6 separate regions of the Homo sapiens genome follow, and all the other regions are reported to be linked to region 4. Evidence: microRNA targets listed by miRTarBase, many of them from high-throughput screens and not tested one by one. Region 4 holds a microRNA gene; each other region holds the end of a gene's coding sequence.
The links. Region 4 holds the annotated microRNA hsa-miR-4265 (CUGUGGGCUCAGCUCUGGG, at 2,035-2,053, shown strand). A microRNA usually pairs through its seed, bases 2 to 8, with sites in the 3' UTR of a target mRNA and lowers its output. Matches are read on the target gene's strand: a 7mer-m8 pairs with bases 2 to 8, a 7mer-A1 pairs with bases 2 to 7 and ends in A, and an 8mer does both.

Region 1: miRTarBase lists SYNGAP1 as a target of hsa-miR-4265. The part of its 3' UTR that is shown has no 7-base or 8-base seed match.
Region 2: the mRNA of UBE2D4 is a reported target of hsa-miR-4265. Seed matches in the 3' UTR shown: 7mer-m8 at 2,397-2,403 and 7mer-A1 at 3,794-3,800.
Region 3: the mRNA of NLRP9 is a reported target of hsa-miR-4265. The part of its 3' UTR that is shown has no 7-base or 8-base seed match.
Region 5: the mRNA of HNRNPU is a reported target of hsa-miR-4265. Seed matches in the 3' UTR shown: 7mer-A1 at 3,008-3,014.
Region 6: miRTarBase lists PLIN3 as a target of hsa-miR-4265. Seed matches in the 3' UTR shown: 7mer-A1 at 2,432-2,438.

Annotation. Positions count from the first base shown.
Region 1 is chr6:33,451,320-33,455,319 of GRCh38, forward strand. It overlaps SYNGAP1 (synaptic Ras GTPase activating protein 1), which reads left to right. Exons shown (of 19, transcript NM_006772.3): 19 at 441-2,370. The coding sequence ends at 587. ZBTB9 (zinc finger and BTB domain containing 9) reads left to right here and starts at 3,257. Exons shown (of 2, transcript NM_152735.4): 1 at 3,257-3,456; 2 at 3,711-4,000. The coding sequence starts at 3,782. It overlaps SYNGAP1-AS1 (SYNGAP1 antisense RNA 1), which reads right to left and starts at 3,086. Exons shown (of 3, transcript NR_174954.1): 1 at 2,951-3,086.
Region 2 is chr7:43,952,115-43,956,218 of GRCh38, forward strand. UBE2D4 (ubiquitin conjugating enzyme E2 D4) reads left to right here. Exons shown (of 7, transcript NM_015983.4): 7 at 536-4,022. The coding sequence ends at 581. It also overlaps the pseudogene POLR2J4. Among named protein-coding and RNA genes, the nearest start is that of UBE2D4, 28 kb to the left of the region's middle. RefSeq lists silencers at 2,525-2,594, 2,635-2,684.
Region 3 is chr19:55,705,082-55,709,185 of GRCh38, reverse strand. It overlaps NLRP9 (NLR family pyrin domain containing 9), which reads left to right. Exons shown (of 9, transcript NM_176820.4): 9 at 142-748. The coding sequence ends at 274. It overlaps EPN1 (epsin 1), which reads right to left. Exons shown (of 11, transcript NM_001130072.2): 11 at 1-4,104. It also overlaps the pseudogene VN1R106P. Among named protein-coding and RNA genes, the nearest start is that of NLRP9, 31 kb to the left of the region's middle.
Region 4 is chr2:109,139,449-109,143,552 of GRCh38, reverse strand. It overlaps MIR4265 (microRNA 4265), which reads left to right and starts at 1,965; the gene lies at 1,965-2,063. The region is part of intron 1 of SH3RF3 (SH3 domain containing ring finger 3); the gene reads right to left. It also overlaps a transcript of RANBP2 not described here.
Region 5 is chr1:244,850,591-244,854,691 of GRCh38, forward strand. HNRNPU (heterogeneous nuclear ribonucleoprotein U) reads right to left here. Exons shown (of 14, transcript NM_031844.3): 14 at 1-3,913. The coding sequence ends at 3,860. SNORA100 (small nucleolar RNA, H/ACA box 100) reads right to left here and starts at 3,627; the gene lies at 3,497-3,627.
Region 6 is chr19:4,835,915-4,840,018 of GRCh38, forward strand. PLIN3 (perilipin 3) reads right to left here. Exons shown (of 8, transcript NM_005817.5): 8 at 2,427-3,622. The coding sequence ends at 3,278. Among named protein-coding and RNA genes, the nearest start is that of TICAM1, 6.3 kb to the left of the region's middle.

The sequences.
Region 1 (4,000 bases), not on the chromosome of region 4:
GCTGTACTGCCTCCCCTTATTCCTCAACATGAAGTTCCCACCTCGGATTGGGGATGGGTGGGAGGGGGTTTCAAGAGGAGGAGGGTGGGATGGGCAAGGAATATACACAGGTGAAGCCAGAGAAGGGTTAGGTTGGGGGTGCGGTGGGAACTTGCTGTTTTGATCTGGTTTCCTGGTGTGACACTCTGGGTTAAAGGCTTGAAGGCCCCTGTTAGGAGTCTAGGGGTGAGATTCTCTTCTCTCTGATCCCAGAGGACGTTAACTTCTACTGCAGGTGAGAAACAAAATAGGAGGATGGTGGGGACTGTCCTGGGAGGAGGGGGTGGTCCATGGCTTGTGGTGTGGGCTGGCTATAGGGGAGGCCACTGCTAGGGGACTGGCATCCAGGCCCCCTTGAAGCGTCTCAATAAGTCCGCGCTCTCCTTTTTGGTGTCTTGCAGGAGAGGCAGCTTCCCCCCTTGGGTCCAACAAACCCGCGTGTGACGCTGGCCCCACCGTGGAATGGCCTGGCCCCCCCAGCCCCACCACCCCCACCCCGGCTGCAGATTACGGAGAACGGCGAGTTCCGAAACACCGCAGACCACTAGCCCACCCAGCATCAGAGACCTTCTCTTCCTTTCCTGTGCACCCCACCCTGTAACAGCACCAACCACCAGGATTGGACATCACCGAGGAACAGCGGGATTGCCTCCCCGAATGCCTCCCTGGGAGGCACACTGATTGCCCACCCCCACCACTGCACCATTTCCAGGAGGGAGAGTGGGGACCCTCAGCCGCCCCCTTTTCCTTCCCATTGGGGTGCTGCCCTCTCTTTGACCCCCAGGGACCCTTGCCCCAGGACACCGCCTACCCCGTACAGACCCCTTCACTCCGGGGTGCTATCCCCATCCTCTGCCTCATCGTTCCCCTGAGCACTGGGGGACAGACCCTCACCCCCACCCTGGGGGTGTGGCACCTCCAAACTTTCAACTTCAGGGTGATTTTTTTAGCAGTAACCAGAGCTGACAATCTAACTCCCCTCCACCGCCCCATTTTGGCCTCCCCTGCCCCCCTTGTTATGGGGAGGGGACCCCGGGTGAGGGGGCCCTATTACCCCTTGATTTCTCAGGAGCGTCTGGGGGGGCTCAGCACGCACAAACTCCTTCTCCTTCTACCACTCTTAAATTTACTCCCTCCCCACCCAGAACCCAGATGGGGTGGAGGGGGCCACCGGGGCAGGGAGGGGGCGGCAAGGGGGGAATGGGAGTTGTCTCCCCTTCTCCCCACACCTGATCTGCTCTCGGCTGGTCCCAGAGCGGGGTGAGGGGGCTTATGCCCCCCCCTCCCCCAGTGTGTTGGGTGGGGTGGAATTGAGGTTAGGGTGAGGGGTCAGGGTTTAGGAGGGTGTGTATGTTGGGAGGACAGGCTAGTTGATCTGTCCTACTCTGACACACAGTCCCCTCTGCCCCTTCCTTCTCTCTTCTTGGTCTCTACTCCCAGGGGGAGGGGGGAACTTACTCTAGGAAAAGCCATGTCTCTCTCCCCCAGGGTGGGGGGACCTGTGTTGGAGGAGGGGTGTTGGGGGGCCCCCTTCCATGACTCTGTCCCCTGGGGGAGGTAGGACAGGGCTGGGCTTCCCTCTCATCCTCCCCCTCCCAATCTCCTTCCACCTCCCTCCCTCCCGCCAGCTCCACGATTTTTCGGTGTTTCTCTGTACATAGTTTTCTGGCGGGATAGGGGAGGTAGGATGGATGGGGTTTGGGGTGGGTAGGCCATGGGAGGGGAGAAGCCCCTCCTTGGCACCCCCTCTTCCCTGACTGCTGTCCCCTACCCAGCCTTGCCCCCTTCATCCTTTTGCGTTTGGTATTGAGACTCTCCTAGACTCTACTCCTCTTTCTTTTGTATGGACAGTTCCCCTTCAGTCCCATCCCCCTACACATACACCCAGCCGGGGCCAAATTTATACTTATATAAAAGTTGTAAATATGTGAAATTTTATCCCTGTGCCCTTTCCCCACCTCAGGCCCTACCCCTGGACCCTCCCCAACCTTCCTTCTCTCTTCTTTGGCTGTTGTAATTATCTGGGGTTTGTACTGTACATATCCGGGGTGTGTGTGTGTGGGCTGGGGGCAACCCTTCTGTACAGAGCTTCCTGGCCCCCTCCCCCCCCGCCCCTCTGCTTCCCTCCCCACCCACCACCTCAAGGGTAGGGAGTTGCTCTTCCTACCTGTTTTATTTTGTTTTCTCGTTCTCCCTCCCCACCCCACTCCCAGCCTTATCTATCCCCCCTCACTGTCCCCTTTTCTCCACTCCCAGCCCCATTTCCTTTTTTTCTGGAGTGTGTGGTGAAACAGAAAAAAACATGTTTAATAAACGGAGATTGTTCTTTTATCGCTGTGCCGACTTTCTTAGGCAGGGCTCTCCAGACCTGTACGGTGGTAAGATCTGCTTTCTGAAAGGAAGCTGACAGCCTGAGAGGAAAACCGTATATCCCCACCTGATGCCACACTCTCCTCATAGAATGTCACTCTCCCCTCCCAATGAGATTTTTTATATTTTAGAGCAGGAGTTTTGCACCGGCCAAACTTCTCCAATCTAACTCTCCCCTCACCACTGTGTCACTTAGTCCGAGGCCAGGAACAGCGGCGTTATCTGATAAAAGAGTTCATGTATATATCCACATTTATCTCTTTTAAAAATTACCTAGAAATAAGGTTTCTTTAATTGCTGGTTAAAATGCTCCCGTGCAGAAAACAGGAAAGAACCTGCCTGGTTCCTTAGCAAATCTGAGTTCCAGTCCCAGGTCCACTACTATTAGCTGAGTGACGCTTCCAGCCCGTTTCCCCCGCCTGGAAACTGAGGACGGCAACCCCCACCCTCGCAGGGCCGGTGGGAAGACACAAAGTGATGTGGGCAAGTGCCAGGCCCACATGGTAAGTACCCAACTAATCTCGCCCCTCTCAGGACCTACCGGGGGCGGGTGCTACACTTAATCACCGGGAAACGCAGCTTTCCGGGGCGGCTGACGGCCCACCCCCTCCGACCGGGCTGTTCTCTCCCGGGCCCTGCCTCTCGGTCCTCTGCAGCGGGGAGGACTTCAGCAGCTCCCCGGGACGCCCGTTGCGAGGACACCCTGGGCCTGTGCCCTCCTACTAGCACCGCCCTCCTCGTCTGCAGTAGCCAATCAACACGAGGCTTGTAGGCTGCCGTTCCTCGATTGGCTACGGCTCTAGCTCCGCCCGCCGCACTTGGCGACGGTGTCCGGCGGGGAGGCGGCGGCTTCCGGTCTGGGACGGAGCTGTAGCGGCACTGTAACTGCGAGGGCAGCGCCGCGTGTGTAACGGCGGGGGCGTGTCGGCGGGAAGGACAATCGGGCCGGGACTCGCGGTGTCCGGGTGACCGCGGCTTCCCGGGAGCAGACCTCTGTGGGCACTGTGAGGCGGAACGGAGCGGCGGGGCAGGAGCTGTTCTGGGCAGGTGAAGGCAGGCTGGTGGCTGAAGGACCTCCTTCTTATCTTCCACAGGGGCTGGAAGTTAAAACCCCTGTTGGTGTTTAGTGGTGGTGGTTGTTGTTGTTGTTTGTTTTTGCTTTCTTGGTGTGCGGGACTGATTTGCAGAAACCGCCACTGACTTAAAAGTTTCCAGTTATTGCTCGTGGGGAGGGGGTTGTTTGAGAAGATGTGGCTCCCTTTATCCAGGGCTTCTGTGACCTCCATCTTTTTCCTCTGCAGCCTTCATCCCGCGTGGAGTCTACCCCCAAGCCCTTCTCCTCTTCCCAATTCTTGTCACCTTCGAGGAGGCCATGGAAACCCCAACACCTTTGCCGCCTGTACCCGCCTCCCCGACCTGCAACCCAGCCCCACGGACAATCCAGATCGAGTTCCCACAGCATAGCTCGTCTCTGCTGGAATCTCTGAACCGCCACAGGCTAGAGGGAAAGTTCTGTGATGTGTCCCTCCTGGTGCAGGGCCGGGAACTTAGGGCTCATAAAGCAGTGTTAGCTGCTGCCTCTCCTTACTTC
Region 2 (4,104 bases), not on the chromosome of region 4:
CATACAGACTTCTCTAGTTTCCCCACAAGCACACAAGGCAGATACTTTCCCCATGGCAAGCAATCAAAAAAGCCAGGACACAGAGGGGCGGAACAGCTGCTGAGGACTGTACTGATGCACACCCCGGTAGGCAGATTCCCAAGCCCTTGTTCTGGAGTTTGTGTGCTGGACGGCCTGTAACTAGTACAAACTGACCTTTGTGTGTCTCTTCTCTGTCCTCCCTGCATCCATATTGTAGGACAGGAGAAAGAAAGGGAGGAAGTCTGTTGCATTATTAAATCTTCCACAGCAGATAGTTATGGAGAATCAACAGTTTGGGGTTTACACATGAGGGGTTCACCCAGCTGGGGGTTTACAGCCATGTCTGATGTGCTCCTGCTCCAGGGAAAGCCTTTATTCCACTCACCCATCAGCCGTAGATGTTTGACAAGCAGCAGCAGCAGCATTCCCCACATCAGTCCTGTTCTCTGCAGCACATTGAAGGGAAGTGACCATTTCAAGTGAGGGTGTCACTTCCTCTGCTTTTTTATTCCAGGTACAACAGACTAGCAAGAGAGTGGACACAAAAATATGCTATGTAAGTGCCTTGGAGGTTTTACATGAGACACTGTCCAAGAGAAGCTGGCAGAGAGGTCTTCCCTTAAAACTTTGGGCTGTTGGCTGAGCCATTCAAAGAGCATCATCTGTTCTTCAAACAAATGTTGGTCACCCACTCTCTCCAGCTGCAGCATGTTGGTGCCATTTTCAGCAATTACGGCTTTGACAGTGCCACCTCTTTGATGCCAAATCAGCAACCATTGTTGTTATGATCTGCAGTCTTCCTGGTGACACTGGAATCTCTCTCTCTGCCGCCTCAGTTTGTCTGCTGGTCTCTTGGGGGGCCAGGCCCTGCACGTCTCTCCTACCCGGCCTCAAATGGTGCTGCTGCCCATGATGGTACCACACCAGGGCCTCAGCCTGGCCCCTCACCACATACCCTTTGCCTTTTAGAACTCAGTGCCATCCTGGGTGCCCAGGGCAGAGCAGGCTTTGTTCGCACCTCATCTGCTGCAGAACCACATCCTGAGGAGTCTCAGCTTATCCTGGAGGGAATTGGGAACAGTGTCACTGGGAAGTGAAGGCCTAGCCCTGTGGCTTCCACCAGTCTCCTCCTGCAGTGCCACGTGGTGGCATTTCTCGCCTCACACCAAGAAGCAGCAAGTGGAAAATTTCAGGATACAAAGCACATAACACCCCATAAGAGATGATTATGTTTTTAGAAGCAAGAGCAAAATTATGAAACCTCTAGAGATTTGGGTCATGTTACTCCATTTGATGAAGATTCTCACTACCGCCCGCTCCTCCCATAGGAGCCTACACTAAGTCCAAGTGTGAGCCATTCACAGACTAGAACACAAGGAGGGAGAGAGACTCTTAAACGTAAATAAAAATGCAATTCACTCACAACTCTAAATGATAATTGACATTTCAGCCTCTTTCTTTTAGGCAAAACAGAAGATACACACTATTAACAGTTATTTGAAGCCTTAAATTACAATAGCCTGTTAGGTGATCGGCTTTCTGCCTTGGCTTTCTGATGCAGCACATTTTAAGATTTGCCTTTAAAGCTTTGAGCCTTGAGATTAGGTTAGTTAGGAAGAGGACAACAAAGGGAAGAGATTATTCTAATAAAACTTCCACAGAGGGAAGAAAATTGAGGAGCTTCAGATCTCTAAAGCCAAATTCAACCTGATCTTTCTAGGTTGGTTATAAAGCTGGTCCACTTCCAGGAAGTGATGTGTAGGTGAATAGGAACAAAAGGTGAAGAAGCAGTAAAACTGTGACCAAGTGGCCAGATGGGGCTTTTGCCGGCTGATTGAAAGGAAGTCTACAGACCTAACATAAGCAGTCAGCCAAAGGTGGCTGTGGGAGGTTGATTTCTTCCAGAAACTTCCAAGTTGTGGCTACAAATTTATTGCCAGATATTTTCCCACTGAGAATACTGAGGTTATTCACATAATCACTTCCTTAACAAAGGAAGAAGCACTTTTAACTTGGGCTGCATTCCCTTTGTGAGGGTCCACATTTAGGATCCTCCTGCTACCATAAGGCCCCTTTTGGGGTTCTTTGGGTGTGGCTGCATCTCACCATGTTGAGGATTGCCTTTTTTTTTTTTTTTTTTTTTTTTTTTTAACACAGAGCCTTGCTCTGTCTCCCAGGCTGGAGTGCAGTGGTGCGATCTTGGCTCACTGCAACCTCTGCCTCCCAGGTTCAAGCAATTCTCCTGCCTCAGCCTCCCAAGTAGCCGGAATTACAGGCATGTGCCACCATGCTGGGCTAATTTTTGTATTTTTAGTGGAGACGGTGTTTCACCATGTTGGCCAGGCTGTTCTTGAACTCCTGGCCTCAAGTGACCCGCCCACATTGGCCTCCCAAAGTGCTGGGATTACAGGCGTGAGCCCCCGTGCCCAGCAAGGATTGCTGTTTTAATTCTTGTATCTTCGTTGCTTCTTTGGTCTTTGCTTAAACAAAACAATAAAGCTTAATAGTTGGGGAGAATGCTGTTACCAGTGTCCTCTAGGAAGGCTGTTAGCATATGGCTCTACTGAGCAGCAGTGCCATCTGGTGCCTGAGATCATGTGCTTCAGGCAGTTGTCACACTGCATCTACAGCCAAGCATCACAGAAACACTTCACTCATGTGGTCAGGGAAGGTGGGACTGATTCACATGTTAGAGACAGGTCAGATGGGAAAATTAAGGCCCAACTTGGTGTTGGGGAATAACCATACTCTGGTCTTTCAAGTGTAGTAGCTGATGATTCCCAAGAAACTGATGAATTTTCTGAGTCCAGACAAAATTTCCCCAAGCCTGCTCTCTCTGTTGGATATACATAATAGAGAAAGTCAAATCAGCCCTTTGGGGTTTGTGGTAAAAATTCACTCACCCATTGAAGCCTAAGGTGGCTTTGTACCTTCCAGATCTCTCAGCAAATCCCCTGGGCAGAAATGTCACCTGCTTGCCATGTCTTTGAGGGGTTCAGGTCAGCCTGGAGAACAGGCTCCTTAGGTCAAAAACCTTGTTTTAAGAGCCACTGTGGTACAGTCAATGTAACCCACTTGTGCAGAAGCCATGCTTCCAAGGAAGGTCTCAGGTTGACAACTAGACATCAAATCTGAGAAGCCAACTGTGGAGTAATGTGTTTTTTTCTCTGTGGACAAGAGTGATCAGAAAGGTGCTTGATCTTGAACAATTGATCCATGATGAAAAAATGACCATTAGCTCTCCCCCAGAAGCGTCTGTGTTTGCTGAATGGAGCTGAGATTTTGATCCGCTATCAGACTCCAGAAAGATCCAGGAGTTCCAAGAACATGGCAAAGAGTCAAAATCTTAGGACAAGGAATTAAAATGCCAGAATGCAAATGTCCAACAGGCCTGGTAGCTCACAGCTATCAACACCCTAGAATTCCACACTGCCTCACTGCAGTTGCTCAAGGATGGGTATGTTTCTGTCTCTGAAATTCGGGAAAAAGCCTTAAGTGCCAGAGAAGGTGCTTCCAAGACTGTCTGCAGAATTCCTTTCCTAGGGTCTGTCTCTGGTACCCAAAAGGGCAGAGAAGGAACCCTAAGATTAGCATAGAGCCACTCATCTCTCCTCCCCTCCCCACCCCTTCTTCCCCTGCTTCCATTCCCCATGGCTCTCTCCTCTGACTGTGAAACACTTCCTCTCCAGCAGTGTTGGGAAAGTTCTGGACCTCTACTGGATCTAGCCATAAATGGTGGTCTTCAGAAAAATGGAGATTGTGGCTGCCAGCACCCACAAGACAGCAGCCTCATGCCATGCAGGCAGCAAGCCATCCTGAACAGCGTTCCTCCCAGAGTCTGTTTCCTCACCTGCTGTTCACTGGTGAGAGGAAAAGGGACTTGTTCTCCCTTGACCAGTTTTCTAGTTTTCCTGTTCCCACCCTGGTCTTTGCCTGATGACAGAGAAACTTTCTAAAAAAAAACAAAAACAAAAGCTATAAAAAATCTGCAAAACACCCTATCAGAAGTCAATGATTTCCTTAAAAATACATCTACTTCCTTCCTGTCCTTCTTATCTTCTCCCTTGCCCCAGACAGGTGTGC
Region 3 (4,104 bases), not on the chromosome of region 4:
GTTTTTCAAATTCAGTACAATTCTCCCAGTGATTTCTAGGAAAGAATAAAGAGGAGAGGAGAGGTAGACATCAGAATGTAGAGAGGCAATACTGTGTAAAAATGAAAAACAAAAAAAAAAACTTTATTTCTATTTTCCCAGGCTGCACAAATCTGGCTTTGATGAAGAAACTCAGAAGATCCTGATGTCTGTGGAAGAAAAAATTCCCCATCTGACCATTTCACATGGACCTTGGATTGACGAGGAATACAAGATCAGGGGTGTGCTCCTCTGATGGGGAACACCCTGAAGTAGTCGTCTCACAAAGGCTTTCCTTGGCCACAGTGGGACCTTCACCTGGCACCTCTATCCTGTAATTGCACATCATGGCAGCAGGGCTGTGATTTCAGAGGTACTCCCTAAGTGTTCTAGCAATATGATTATGGAGTGTGATTCAGTGTACATGCTGATTGTCTTTGCCTCGGTCCTATATCCCCTTGTCTTTAGAAATCCCATCCTGCCTTGTGATATTTAGAAGCACAAGTACGTTAAACAAGTGCTAAACGCTCTGGAAAGCATGGCTTTATTTTCTTAATGGATGTCTTGGTGTGTAGGAGCATGCATTTGTAGGCACCACAATCCGGATACTTCTGACACAGAAGTGATGCTAGAATGTGTCTATAGATTGTATTGCTAGCATCCAGACTTTCTAGTTTGTCCAGATTTCGATTTGATCAATTTTCTTGTCCAATAAAAAAGCATTTCCAAATCTCTACTTATCCTTTTATATATGACACCCCAATAGATTTTTCTAAAAATTCAGTATTATTCAAATATATCTACACTGTTTATATTTCAAAACACAATATTAAACACTTCATTGTCATAATTAAACATTCCCTAGTTCCCTACGGTAAATTGCTGATGCCTTATTGGCCTGGTCTAAAATTTTTATTACAAAACATAAAAGCAAGATGATGCAGAAATTGGATTATATAATCAGTTATCATTAGATTGAAATATAATCTCAGATTCTCCTGAGAATGAGAAATTGTGGACCTACTCTTGGATCTCTTGGCACACTCCTGGATTCTTTGGATATTTGGGAGGCTGAATTTTCTATAATCTTCAATGTAGAGTGCTCGCACTTACTTGCTTAATTTTACTTCCAGGTTTTCCATATGTTTAAGCAATTATGAACTTTTTTGCCCAATTTTCTATTTGCTTTTGGCCTTTTCCCACAACTTTAAAGAATGCTGGCATAGGCCAGGAGTGGTGGCTCACGCCTGTAATTCCAGCACTTTGGGAGGTCCACGCGGGCGGATCACCAGGTCAGGACTTTAAGACCTGTAAACACGAGTTTACACTCAAGACTGGACAAGGGTTTCCATAGGACAAAAGACACCATTGTGTGGGGGATTCCAGTGGAAAGAAGAACCAAGGAGTTTGCCACGGCCATGTGGGTGAGAATCTTGTGTGTGGGCCTCATTTGATGCTCAGTCAAGATGGGAAAGATATTATGGAAGAACAGAATGGCATTGGCCAGAGTCCCCACCCCAGTCTGCAAAGGAAAGATGGTTTTTATGGCCACTTCCCCTATGGTTCTTAGGACATTGTTCTGAAAAGACATGGGGAGGGTTTCCAGGTGGTCTGAACTGAAGAGCTGGCTATGTCTGTGATGAGATCAGCACTCTTAGCTTTTCATCTTGGAAAGTTATTTTGGTCTTTCCTTTACCCGAAATAGAGACACTGTCATATTCCACAGAAGGGGCTCAACATGGAGAACATACCCCTGACACCAGTTTCACATTTGACTGGTTTTTGGGTATTTATTTTCATTTGTTATTTGTTCTTTCTTTTGTTTTAGAGTCAGGGTCTGCTTTTTGGCTCAGTCTGGAGGGCAGTGGTGCCATCATAGCTCACTGCAGCCTTGAACTCCTGGGTTCAAGTGATGCTCCTGCCTCAGCCTCCTGTGTAGCTGGGACCACAGGTGCACACTACCGTTCCTTTTTTTTTTTTTTTGAGAGACAGCCTCACTCTGTTGCTCGCCCAGGCTGGAGTGCAGTGGCACAATCTCGGCTCACTGCAGCCTCCGTCTCCTGGGTTCAAGTGATTCTCCTGTCTCAGCCACCTGAGTAGCTGGGATTTCAGGCATGCGCCACCATGCCCTGCTAGTTTTTGTTTTGGTATTTTTAGTAGAGATGGGGTTTTGCCATGTTGGTCAGGCTGGTCTCAAACTCCTGACCTGAGGTAATCCGCCTGCCTCGGCCTCCCAAAGTGCTGGGATTACAGGCCTGAGCCACCGCGCTCAGCCCATTTAAATATTTTTTAGTATAGACGGGGTCTCACTATGTTTCCCAGGCTGGTCTGGTACTCCTGGCTTCAAGTGATCCTCCCACTTCAGCCTCTCAAACTGCTGGGATTACAGGCACAAGCCATCGCACCTGGCCCATTTACTTTTTTTTTTTAATCTCTCTTTACTATTGTTTTTTAAATCTCTCTTTACTATTGTTTTTTAAATCTCTCCCTTCCCTTCCCCTCTTTTCTTTCTTTCCTTTTCCTTCCCCTTCCCTCCTTTTTCTCTCTTTCCTGCAATGCTGCAATCTTGGCTCACTGCAGCCTCTGCCTCTGGGTTCAAGCGATTCTCCCGCCTTAGCCTACTGAGGAGCTGAGATTACAGGCATCTGCCATCATGCCCGGCTAATTTTTGTATTTTTAGTAGAGACAGGGTTTTGCCATGTCGGCCAGGCTGGTCTCGAACTCCCAACCTCAGGTGATCCACCCGCCTCAGCCTCCCAAAGTGCTAGGATTTCAGACATGAGCCACCACGCCCGGCCCTCTTTCACTTTTCTAAAACAGTACGCCACTGCATTCCAGCCTGGGTGACAGAGCGAAACACGGTCTTTTAAAAAAAAAAAAAAAAGAAGAAGAAAAAGAGAAGAAAGGAAGAAAAGAGGAGGAAAAAGGAGAAGAAAGAGGAGGAAAGGAAGAAAGAAAAATAAAGGAAGAAAGGAGGAGAAAAAGGAGGAAGAGGAAGAAGAAAAGAGAGGAGGAGGAGGAAGAAGAAATCAAAGTTCTCCAGTCTCATAAACCTGCACATGCAGAGAATCTGGAAAAACTAAAGCTGGGTTGTTCCCCAACCAATGGACATTCTATGGTCCCTTTTCTTCCAGATAATAAGGCCTTCTTTGTAACTGCTATGCAGACCTCTGGCTTCCCATCCAGCATACCTGAACTAAGACTTATTTTGTCTTACACTTTATACTCACTGAAAATCAAGAATCCCATGGTGAGCTATGATCACACACTGCAATGCAGCTTTAGTGATAGAGCAAGACCTTGTCTCTAAATATATATATATATCCCACAACACTCTAAATATATATATATATATATATCCCACAACAACAAATATTCCAGCCACAATGTCAGTATGACTGTTGAAGAACCTGACCTTATGATTGACATGTCATTTTCTCGATACTTTCAAGATTTTCTCTACCTTTGGCCTTTATTAACTTGACTCTGATAATGTTCGGGGATACTTTTCTTTTTTCTAAGAAAGGGTCTTGCTCTGTTGTCCATGCTGGAGTGCAATGGTGCGATCTCGGCTCACTGCAACCTCCACCTCCCGGGCTCAAACGATTCTCCCATCTCAGCATCCCGAGTAGCTGGGACTACAGGTGCATGCCACTATGCATGACTAATTTTTGTATTTTTAGTAGAGATGGTGATTTTGTCATGTTGGCCAGGCTGGTCTCGAACTCCTGACCTCAAGTCATCCATTCGCCCCGGCCTCCCAAACTGCTGGAATTACAGGCTCACGCCACTTCATGAAATGTGTTGTAGTGGCTCTGGATTCTGTATCGTTCTGAGAGGTTTTTTTCATTGGTTTGTTTTCGTTTTTGTGTGTTTCCGTAGGCAAAAAAGTTGCCTGGACAGGTTTACAAAACATATCTCCCCATCTCCCTGCAGTCAGCAGCTATCGGTATCTATGCTAAGTTCCTTCAAAGACTCCTAAGAGGTCTCCATGGACCTCTGAAGTTTAATAGTCAATGATTGGGTCAGAGCTTACTCAGAAACCTCAGGCCAGTGAGGCTTCCAACCTCTGCAGCCCAGGCTGAG
Region 4 (4,104 bases):
CAGGCTGGTCTCAAGCTCCTGGGCTGAAGCGATCTTCCTGTCTTGACCTCCTAAAGTTCTGAGATTACAGGCATGAGCCACTGCACCCAGCCCACTGCACTTTCTTTATCATTCATCTGGTGATGGACATCTGGGTTGCTTTCAGATATTGGCCCTGTGAATAATGCTGAAATGAACATGAGATTGCACATCTCGCTTTGAGGTTCTGATTTCACTTCAACTTAAGGCATTTTTTATCCAAACTATGGTCCTCCAAGCCTCAGTTTCACGATACTTACTTAATGAGTTCCTTTAAATTGACTCACTTTTTATTTAAATTTGTTTCCAAATGAAATTCCATGCAACTGCCACAATTTTTCTATATGCACCACTTGACAAACAGAATGGACCATTAAATGAAAACTTTAATATAAAACGTTTCCCAGGTTCCTCCTGAGGTTACCTTGTGGCCATCATGGCAGGCCCCCCACACTGGGTTCCCGGGCTCAGGGACACCACCAGGAATACCAGCATCCCAGTGGCACTTTCCCTTTCCTCATCTCTAGTGCCAAATCACACTCCAGCAGCCAGGACACCAGCCCCAAGCCCCCGGCACTCCACTACCACCCATGTGCTGTATCTGTCAGCACGACAATTGTCACCTTGAAAGCCGACATCCTTGACAATTCCTCAACCTGACAGAAATTTCCCACTTAAGTTTAGAGAGTGAAAACGTCCCACAATGACAGCCACCTTTCCCCACATTTACCGACAAGCCTATAGCACTTCCATCAGTCAACAACAATCCTCGATGCTTTGGCAGGTGAAGCCAGAGGACACCAACGATCAGAAAATAAACCCAGGCCCGACAGCCCATGCTCCGCTCAGTTGACCTCACAGGTGACTCCAGGATGGAGGGCTCCAAGATGCAGCCAAGCAGAGGCGTTCTGCCCCCAGAGAACCCAGAGAGGCTTCTGGTGACAGGACTAGAATCCTCCTCCCTCAGCCACTGGGGAGAGCAGAGTGCCCCGTTGTCCCTGGGGAGCCCAGGAGGCAGCCCCTCCCTCACTCTCGGCCGCTGTGCCTGCAAGCTGGGTGCCTGTGTGGGTGCTGGGGGCCAGGGAATGGGAAGAAGTCACGGGACACATATTTGATTCCAAGTTTGTGGAGCTAACCCCACAGGGTGCTTTGGGGTCCTATTAAAATCAGAGGAGGCACATTTTAGAGTAGAATATAACATGCATGGGAATTTTTAAGAAAAAATAAGACTGTAAACACCTATTCCTGAGAACACCAATGGAAGGGATGTGGGTGGGGAGGTGGGGCAGCTGGCAAAGAACTGGAAATGCACAGCTCACCCAGTCACAAAGGCGCAAGAGTCCGCCCAGGGGGCTGGACCATGGGAAGCATTCCCTTGCTGCTCTCCAGGAGCTCAGGGACCCCACCCGGTAGGTGACTCAGGGTGGGGCCCAGGGGACAGGCCAGGGGCTGCAGCAGAAGTTCTAGGCACATACCTGAGACCCCCCCCCCAGGAGACTCAAGGACCCCAGAAGAGGACTTGGGCAGGGGGCTGGAAATGATGGCCACACACCAGAGGAGGTGTCACAGAAGTTTGTTTGAGACTTCCGTGAGTGTAGAAAGGGCCCTGCCACCTGCAGAGCTTGCAGGAGGTAGGAGAAGCAGGCAGCCGACAGCAGACTGGCACATCTGGGGGGTCCCATGGGTGAAAGGAGGCGAGGACCTGGCTTTGCTGAGCTGGACACAACCGTCACCCTGACCTCCTTCTCCAACCAGTACCCCCTCCTGTTGATACTGTCAGGAGACTTGTTCCCCGGGGTCTAGAAAATGACTATTTTGCTTTCTCCTGGGAGATGCTGGCTTTGGGTCCTAACTCTTCTGTCAAGACACACTGTTATCCCCAGGCGTCATCACTCTTCCTGGGATCTGCACCCTAAATTCACATCCGATTTCACGATAGAGAAAAGTGCAGTGGGTTGGAGCTTCAGCCTACACCTGTAAAGAATTGGTCAGCCTGGGGACTGGTGATCTCTGCAGCTGTGGGCTCAGCTCTGGGCTGGGCCTGGTCACTGGGAAAGGCAGGCATGTGCCTAGGTGCTGCAGAGGTCTCGAGCCCCTCCCATGAGCTTGGCGCGGTGCGGAGGGCAGCCTGTGAGTGAGGCTCTGAGCCCCACTCATCACTGAGCAAGTTGGAGGAAGAGGGACCCAGGCAGAGACGAGAGGCTGCCTCCAGAAAGCCAGCCAGTGGCAACTGCAAAAGCCGACAGAGCACTGGTTGCCAGGAATGCGCACGGCCCACAGAGGGGAAGAGTGAGGAAGGGTCACTGAAACAGCCTGAACAAATAAAAATGGAGCCAGAAACTGCACAGAAGGGAGACAAAAGAGAGGAATCCGCAGAAACCTGGGCTCCGGGGGGTGTGGTTGCATCTTTCCACCTGGATGAAGTCGACTAAAATGAGCACCAAGGATGGGTCCCAGCATAGCATTGATCCCTTCAATACAACTGATGTAAATGGCTCACACCAGCCAGATACCGCCTGCCCAACAGGAGTCTGGTTGTCAGGATGCTTTAGGGTTGTCCAGTTCACAGCAGCCCCGGATGGAAGGTGGGGGTTATGAAAGTAAGGGCTTCTCAGCCCATGAAGTTGTTTACAGCAGTGATAGTACCAAGTGGAAAACTGATACCCCTGGGGCCAGACTGTGTAGGTGTTGATAGTCTAAGATGGGGCACTGATTAGTTTGGGGACACAGAGGAGATGTTACCTTTAACATCAATCATATTGCATAGACTGGCTATTAACCACGTGTAGAGCACATAGGCCTTTTGCAGAAGGGAAAAAATTCTATTTCCCATAAATCTAAAAAGCATGAAATTGGCCGGGCATGGTGGCTCACGCCTGTAATCCCAGCACTTTGGGAGGCTGAGGCAGGTGGATCATGAGGTCAGGAGATCAAGACCATCCTGGTTAACATGGTGAAACCCCGTCTCTACTAAAAATACAAAAAAATTAGCCAGGCATGGTGGTGGGCGCCTGTAGTCCCAGCTACTCGGGAGGCTGAGACAGGAGAATGGTGTGAACCTGGGAGGCAGAGCCTGCAGTGAGCCAAGATCGCACCACTGCACTCCAGCCTAGGGGACAGAGCAAGACTCCGTCTCTAAAAAAAAAAAGGCAAGAAATTTCTGAAGTCTGGGAAAAATAGAAAAAGAACATCAGTATGTAAAGGCATTATAAGTAGATTTATGATTCACAAAGAACCGGCAAAAGAGAAGGTCCATGGCTGGATGCAGCTGATCTCAGGAAGAGAGAGAACTCCAAACACGTGCGTCAACCACATGCAACCACGTGCATCAATCGACCCATATGCACCAACCATGTGCATCAATGCAGCCTTCAGAAAAGAAGTGACAGTGATGGTGCAGGAGGGGACGGTGGACAGAGGGAAAAGGGGCCTCCCAGGACTAAGTGGAAAGCCTTCCGCAGACCTGTCCTCTTCACCCCAGCCTTGTCATGTGAGTTATGTAGGCACAGTTTCAACGTCATGAGTCACTACCTCTGATCAATAAACCCTCCTGTTTTTTTAAAGCAGCTATATTTGAGACAAACAGCCTCCATCTGCCTAGGAACACAAACCTGAACAAACTAAGCCCCAGTGGCGCTGCCTTTTGGATGTAGACCCCTGTCCACACGACTCCAGATGTCAAACTGCCAAGCAATGGACACATTGGTCTTTGGCAAAGAGGTGATTGAAAAGCTCAAAAACTGCAAGTCTTAAACTCCATTGTTCAATGGGCTGCTGACCCATAGCAGGTGCCCTTCTGCACTGTGAGGCTCAACCACAGGATCTGATATACGTCACCTCATTTGATATGCTGGGGACAACAACTTTAAATCCAGGAAAACTCTTGTTACTGTACACAAGTCAAAGCTTAGTTTGTCAAACCGAGACAGCAGATACACTCCCAATTCCATAAGGAACACATTTTTAAATTAATTTTTAAAACTCAGATTTCTAGCATTGGAAGTTTTCCCTCTGCTATAGTCCACAACACAAATTCAGCCACAGAAGGCACAAGGGGGATGCCGCTCAGGATACAAGAGAGTTGTC
Region 5 (4,101 bases), not on the chromosome of region 4:
TTACTGTTTTAGAGATCTCAGGTAGTTAACCAATTCTTGCTCAAAGCACTAATGTTCAGTCCCTCACCATTTATGCTGGGTATGAGTCCCAATGCATGGGTATTGCAACCTATTGTCAGGCCTTAACATGTATGTGTTTGCTTTTATTATTACTAAAATGTTAAAACTTAAACCCAATTATTCACCAAACTCTGAACACCTCAACCTCAGAGCTCCAGAATTAGGAATGAATGACAAAGTTTAGACTCTAATCATTTTAAGAATGTTAGGTGGGAAGAAATGGCTTCAGATGCAGTATTGTGTTCATCTTTCCAGGGGAACATCTCAAATGGGTATTCTGAAGCAGGTTGAGAAGTAGATAAAATTCTCTGCTACAAGTTCCATCCACTTTTTTTTTTTCAAGAGACCAGGTCTCACTATGTTGCCCAGGATGGTCTCAAACTCCTGAGCTCAAGTGATCCTCCCGCCTTGGCCTCCCAAAGTGCTAGGATTACAGGCGTGAGCCACCACACCCAGCCAAGTTCCATCCACTTTTGAAAACAAGACATTTATGTATAGGAAGAGAATTATGGAAACACTTTGTAAAACATCCATTTATTATATCCAATGCTAAACACTACCACTTGGACTCTAAGATATGTTTATGCCTCTCTGTTTATTCTAGTTTTTTAAAAATCAAATATACAAGATCTACAATTATTTATATCCAAGATGTCTACACCACTGCCTAAGAAGCTATTAAAATATTTGTATTTGTGCAATGGAACCCATTATTCACATGGTCCTAGAATAAAAAGTCAATTTATATTGTGAATAAATTTATCAAAAAACATGTCATCCAATTCCCACAAATGAGACATTTTAAATACAGAATACACTCTGTTCATGAATATAAAATCCCCAGGTGAAAGTCCCTTAAAACACTATTATGGTTATGTTTCCTAGAATAATTTTATAACTTTTTCAGAGAATTCCTTTAAACTTGTTAAAATACCTTGTTGCTAGTGCTCAGAACATCTAGGTTCAGTCTTTATTTTTAAGACAGTATCTATCCTAGGCAAATGAGAGCTTGTTTTTATGTATTTAAGAGTTTCCTCTTGTCATTTCAATGTCAAATTGATTTGACTCAATTTCATGATTTCATCTCGCTCAAGGCCATCAACCGGTCAGAGCCAGAGCCCTTCAAAGGCTGTATGTGAGTATATGAGGGAAAACTTTCCACATAATTTTACATCATTTCTATCTCATAGCAGTTTTAGTTTTCTCATAGCTATCTCATAGCAGTTTTAGTTTTCTCAAATTCTATGCTGTTTTTGTACTACTGCAGCTGACCAATCCAAAGCCAGTTTACACTCAGCATGTGTTATTCTACTTTAAAATATAACCTTAGTGAAAGCACCCTTCAAATCAACAGCAATCTCACAGTGAGTTTCCTCTGGGTAGTCAGGATTTGTCCAGAACTACATCCTTTTCAGATGTTCAGAGTTTTGCTTGCCATTAGGGAGGCAAGGGAAGGATGAGCAATAAATCAGGTTTCTCGTTCGTATCTTACTTCTTACCTAATTTTCTCCCTGTTGCTTATTTGGTACATTCCCTTCTCTGAATTCCTTAAACACTTTATAAGGTTATTTCTGCCATACAAGTGTAGACAATTGTATTAATTCTAGTCTTGACTAAAGATTTTAACATTTTTCTGGGTGCCATTTTTATCTATTCTCTCTCCCCCCAAATTCTCTGGGCTAAACAGGCATGATAGTCTACCTAGTGTTACTTGACCATTACTTTCCCACTGCAATTATAAAATGAATTCCTTAATAAGCAATTTTAAACTAGAAGATATATCCAAAACTTTTTAAAGGCACAAAGGACAACTTTAGGACACAACACTGATTAGCATCAAAACCTGAAACTGTTCCTCTAGTAAGTCTATGCAATCCTAATAATGTATACTGAAGAGTAGTAGCTCAGGCCAGTGGTTCTTAGCATTACTTGCTAAAAAAGATAAAAATCCATGACACTATCTTCAACTGTTAAATATCTTATGTTAACTAAGGATTTGCCTGTTCCAAAAATGTCTCAACTGAACCTATACATCACCTAAACTCCAGCTTATAGCAAGAAAATTCCTTAGAAGTATGAATTCATATTTATGATCTGATTTTAAAGGGCTAAAACAAAATTCTAAGCAATCAGAAATATAGCAAACCTAAACTTACCAAAGCAACCTAAAAACACCAAGGAAACGCTAGACTGAAGTCAAATTTTAGTTCTACAGTTTGACTCCTGATTCCTCACTTCACATTGGTGAGGGGAAGATTAAAGTGTTCTGTGCAAACCCAATATAATTACAATTAGGGGATCTAATGTTATTACATAGCTACAGTCAAGTTAGCAGTGTTGTGTAGCAGTGACATCAATGACTGGCTTGCATGATGGCTTCTAAAAGCATCTGATCCCAGAGTTTCATGTATCATATATATGTATATAAAATAATCAGTTGAGGACAGCATTAGCATTCTGTAAAGATGATAAACTCAGTGTTAACTTCTCCCAGCCAGTACCTTTTCCCCTCATTAAATATGTTAAAAGTTGTCTGGGGGGGAGGGGAAGGGAAGAATTCAACTTTACTTCATAATTATGTATCAATTGTCAGTATACATTTAAGTTTTTAAAACCTAAATGTTCTATGCAGAGTAAAGAATAAGCTGTCCAGAAAGCACACACTTAATAAATTTCTCCTCTTGGGAGTTATATAAAGGGATTTTGAACCTTGATGGCGAGAATCCCAAAACAAGAGTAAAATGAATTCTTTTTATTGCAAACAAACGTCTAAATTAATTTCTCCACCCACTTTCTTTAGAAAGAAAAAGAAATCAGCAGGCTAAGGAGATACCCATTCAAGAACTGACATGATTAAAAATTAAGATATAAATGGGTGACTCACAATTTCATTAGCTTACAAAGATGGTGGAGTTAACTACTACAAGCACACTAGTTATACAGTATTTTGTGGGAGAAGGGCATACAGACATGGCTAACTTCATATAGATCCCATTAGACAACTGGATTTACAACAAGTTTTTTTAATAAGAAATGGGCAAAGCCAGCTTTCTTTTCAGAATCAAAATGCAGAACAAATGGAAAAATTATGGTATTAACCTTCACAAGTTTGAGCCTCCACAAATAATGCAACCAAGTTTTACATTTTTAACAGCCCTTCTACATACACTCCATCTTCTCTATCTTAGTTCCAAGTTTTAGTTTTCAATCCCAATTATACCAATTCCATTGTTATTTTAAGAAAAAACCTTCCCAGTTATTGTCAGAAACTATGATTTAGCTTACCCCCTCCACTACCCAGCAAACTACAGAGAGGATGGAGTGTAATATGAGCAGTACAGAGTCTTAATGCAATTCATGAGGACCACTTAGTCCTTACATGAATCTGGTTGCTAACATTTCTATTATATTGTGACAATGACTCCCGACTGTTATTCTCTGTGAGAAATGGGGGGAGTAAATTCTTAATAAAAGACACCAGGTACAAAGCAACATTTTACTTCTGTTGTGATAAAAAAAAAAAAAAGTCACATTTTACAGATAAAATGTAGAACCCTGAAATACTGACACATTCTCTTATCGTGCACAATGCTGAGGTTCTCTTACGATTCACTTTTAAACTGCAATTAAAAATGTACAAAAAAGAAAAGAAAAAAAATCAACCCACAAAGCTTCTAAAAAAGGAACCCGCAGGCACTTCCTCTTGTGGAATGTTTAAAAAGTTAGCCTACTAAAGAAAACAGTCGACTTCTTGTGAAGGTTTTGGAGAAATATGTATCAGTTCGTTTTATTTGGGTATTCAATAATATCCTTGGTGATAATGCTGACTCCATGGCTTCTGACCCCAGAATTGCTGTAAGAGAAAATTTTGTTTTTAAAGAAAAAACATCAATAAGCCACTCAAACTGTTTTTAGGAAATGACAATGAATCTAATTCAGAGTAATTTGCTGGAAACAAATTTATACCTGTCATACCTCTGATTTCTACCAAACCAGATTTAGTTTTAATATCCCATAATTATCAATACACATTACAAAACG
Region 6 (4,104 bases), not on the chromosome of region 4:
GTGCCTGAAGTCCCAGTTACTCAGGAGGCTGAGGCAGGAGAATGGTGTGAACCTGTGAGGTGGTGCGGCTTGCAGTGAGCTGAGATCGCGCCACTGCACTCCAGCCTGGGCTACAGAGCGAGACTCCGTCTCAAAAAAAAAAAAATTTACTGTATTCCATTGTCAATATATCTTTGACACTTTCACAAGTCAACATATGTGTCATGTATGATATTCCAAAACAGGCATTGCTACCTTAAAATGTGGTGGTTATAAGCACCGTGGAGAGAACTTGACTCTTTGAGTCCAATTTTTTTTTTTTTTTTGAGACAGAGTCTCGCTCTGTTGCCCAGGCTGGAGTGCAGTGGCGTGATCTTGGTTCACTGCAACCTTTGCATCCTGGGCTAAGTGATTCTTGTGCCTCAGACTCCCCAGTAGCTGGGATTACAGGTGTGTGCCACCACACCCAGCTAATTTTTGTATTTTTAATAGAGAGGGGGATTTCACCATGTTGGCCAGCCTGGTCTCGAACTCCTGACCTCAAGTGACCTGCCCACCTTGGCCTCCCAAAGTGCTGAGATTACAGGCGTGAGGCACCATGCCTGGCCTGAGTTCAAATTACTACTCAGCTATTAGTAGCTGAGGTGGGGCTGAGGGTGGGCTCTCTGGATTACACCTCATTTTCCCTGGAGATAATAGCATCTATCTGATGGGATTGGGAAAAAGATCGGGTGAGAGCCAGGTGCAGTGACTCTCACCTGTAATCCCAGTGCTTTGGGAGGTTGAGTGGGAGGTCGCTTGAGCCCAGGAGTTTGAGACCAGCCTAGGCAACATAGCAAGACCCACATCTGTGTGTGTGTGTGTGTGTGTGTGTGTGTGTGTGTATAATTTAGCTGAGTGTGGTGGTGCACGCCTGTAGTTCCCAGATACTCAAGAGGATGAGGTGGGGCCAGATGTGGTGGCTCACACCTGTAACCTCAGTACTTTGGGAGGCCGAGGTGGGCAGATCACTTGAGGTCAGGAGTTTGAGACCAGCCTGGCTAACATGGTGAAACCCCATCTCTACTAAAAATACAAAATTACATCCTGGCTAACACGGTGAAACCCTGTCTCTACTAAAAATACAAAAAATTAGCCGGTTGTAGTGGCAGGCACCTGTAGTCCCGGCTACTCGGGAGGCTGAGGCAGGAGAATGGCGTGAACCCAGGAGGTGGAGCTTGCGGTGAGCCGAGATCGTGCCACTGTACTCCAGCCTTAGCCGGGCGTGGTGGTGCACGCCTGTAATCCCAGCTACTCGGGAGGCTGAGGCGGGAAAACCACTCGAACCTGGGAGGTGGAGGTTGCGGTGAGCTGAGATAGTACCACTGCACCCCAGCCTGGGCAACAGAGTACAACTCTGTCTCAAAAAAGAGCGAAAAAAAAAAAAAAAAAGGCTGGCATAGTGGCTCACGCCTGTAATCCAGCACTTTGGGAGGCCGAGGCGGGCAGATCACTTGAGGTCAGGAGTTCAAAGCCAGCCTGGCCAATATGGCAAAACCCCGTCTCTAGTAAAATTCAAAAATTAGCCGGGCATGGTGGGGCACGCACCAGTAATCCCTGTGGCTGTTGGTTATAGGGAGTGGATTCCTATGTAACATTCATTGAACTGTCCCTTTAAGATTCATATACTTGGGTGCATATGAATTCAACTTGAATATGGATTAACAAAGAGAAAGTAACATGTGGTTGGTGATGGGGGAAATGAACCCTCTCAGGACTTAGGGTGGGAGTGAAAAGACTGACAATGATTTGGGCAACAGTCCAGCAGTATTTAGTAAGACTGAGAATGTATCTTCTCCATGTCCCTGGGAGAAGTCCCTGAAGTTCCCCTTCTCTGTAGCTACCGTAGAGAAACACTGTAGATTGTCACTTGGATTTTTTTCCGAGATGGTATCTTGCTCTGTTGCCCAGGCTGGAGTGCAGTAGTGCGATCTTGGCTCACTGCAGTCTCAAACTCCTGGGCTCAAGTGACCCTCCCACCTTACCATGCCTGGCTAACTTAAAAAAAAAAAATTTGTGTAGAGATGGGGTCTTGCTATGTTGCCCAGGCCAGTCTCAAACTCCTGGCCTCAAGTGATCCTCCCACCTCGGCCTCCCAAAGTGCTGGGATTACAGGCGTGAGCCACTGTGCCAGGCCTGCCAGTGTCTTGATCTTGGACTTCCCCGCCTCCGGAACTGTGAGAAATCAATTTCTGTTGCTCATAAATTACCCAGCCTGGCCAGGCACTTTGGGAGGACGTGGTGAGAGGAACGCTTGAGCTCAGGAGTTCAAGATCAGCCTGGGCAACATAGCAAGACCCCGTCTCTACAAAATAAATAAATGAATAAATAAATTACCCTGCCTAAGATATTTCTGTTCTAGCAGCAGGGACAGATGAAGACACACACACGTACACACATGGCCTGTATGCAGTTGTGGGTGAAGTTTATTAAGGCAATACTGAATACCAGAGCATTTCAACAAGGCTTACCACACAGGCCCCAGTACCTTTCTACTCTACAATGAGGCTCAGAAGCTCAGTGTACCACCCCATCCCCAGGAGGCCCACTTAGACCAGAAATCCCAAGTCCATTAGCTACAGGCTGATATTCAGGGACATCGGTGTAAACAAAGAAGTGGGATATGAACTATATCCCTGATTTTTTTTTCTTTTTTTTTTTTTTTGAGACTAAGTCTCACTCTTGTCCCCCAGGCTGGAGTGCAATGGCGCGATCTTGGCTCACTGCAACCTCCGCCTCTCAGGTTCAAGAGATTCTCTTGCCTCAGCCTCCTAACTGGGATAACAGACACCTGCTACCATGCCCGGCTCATTTTTTTTTGTATTTTTAGTAGAGACGGGGTTTCACCATGTTGGCCTGGCTGGTCTCGAACACCTGACCTCAGGTGTTCCGCCCGCCTCAGCCTCCCAAAGTGCTGGGATTACAGGTGTGAGCCACCGCACCCGGCCTATATTCCTGATATTTAACAAGGAAAAAAAATTCTGCAGGGGAGAACTTTCCTGAAAGATATTTTTTCTGGACATCTCTCTCTACTGACTGATAGGGTGAGGCTCAGAACAGGCTTCTTCCAAGCTCAGAGAGGCTGAGAGATGGGTCAACTGGGTGATGCCCGTTTTGAGAGCCTTAGCTTCCCAAGTGGACAGCACAGAAGAGCTGGGAGGAGTGGCTAGAAAATAAGTTTGAAATGAGCCCCGGGTTGAGGACTCCAGAGCACAGCTGCATTATAGAGACGGGGCCCGCTGAGTCCTCTCCTCTCCCCCTACTTCTTCTCCTCCGGGGCTTTCTCAGTGATTCCAGGGGCAAAGGGTCCCACGAGCCACGTGACAGGTGTGTTCTGGGCCACATATTCCACCATGTGGTCCAGGGCCTCGCGGGCGCTGGCGACACGCTCACGGCTCTGGGCCAGAATGCTGCTGGACAGGTCCTGGAAGGAGTGGATGCTGGAAAACGTGGCCTGGAGGTCCTCCACCTGGCGGCGGGCCTGCTGCACCTGGTCCTTCACATTGGTGGGGAGGCCCTGAATGCTGGACCCCAGGGAGGTACAGGTGGCCTGCAGTTGCTGGGCAATGTCCCGGAACATGGTGAGCGCCCGGGACTCGACCTGCTGAGAAGGGAGATGGGGACACCAATCAGGACCATTTGTTTCAGGAAAGGCGATCGGAGCTGAAGCCAGGGAAAGAGGGGAAGAGGGGTTCTACCACTGACCTTGGGGCAAACGCTTTCCATAGGCGAAACTTTTTTTTTTTTTTTTGAGACGGAGTCTCGCCCTGTCGCCCAGGCTGGAGTGCAGTGGCACAATCTCAACTCACTGCAAGCTCCGCCTCTCAGGTTCGCGCCATTCTCCTGCCTCAGCCTCCCGAGTAGCTGGGACTACAGGCGCCCACCACCACGCCAGGCTAATTTTTTGTATTTTTAGTAGAGACGGGGTTTCACCGTGTTAGCCAGGATGGTCTTGATCTCCTGACCTCGTGATCCGCCTGCCTTGGCCTCCCAAAATGCTGGGATTACAAGCGTGAGCCACCGTGCCCGGCCCTTTTTTTTTTTTTTTTTTTTGAGATAGAGTCTTGCTCTGTTGCCCAGGTTGGC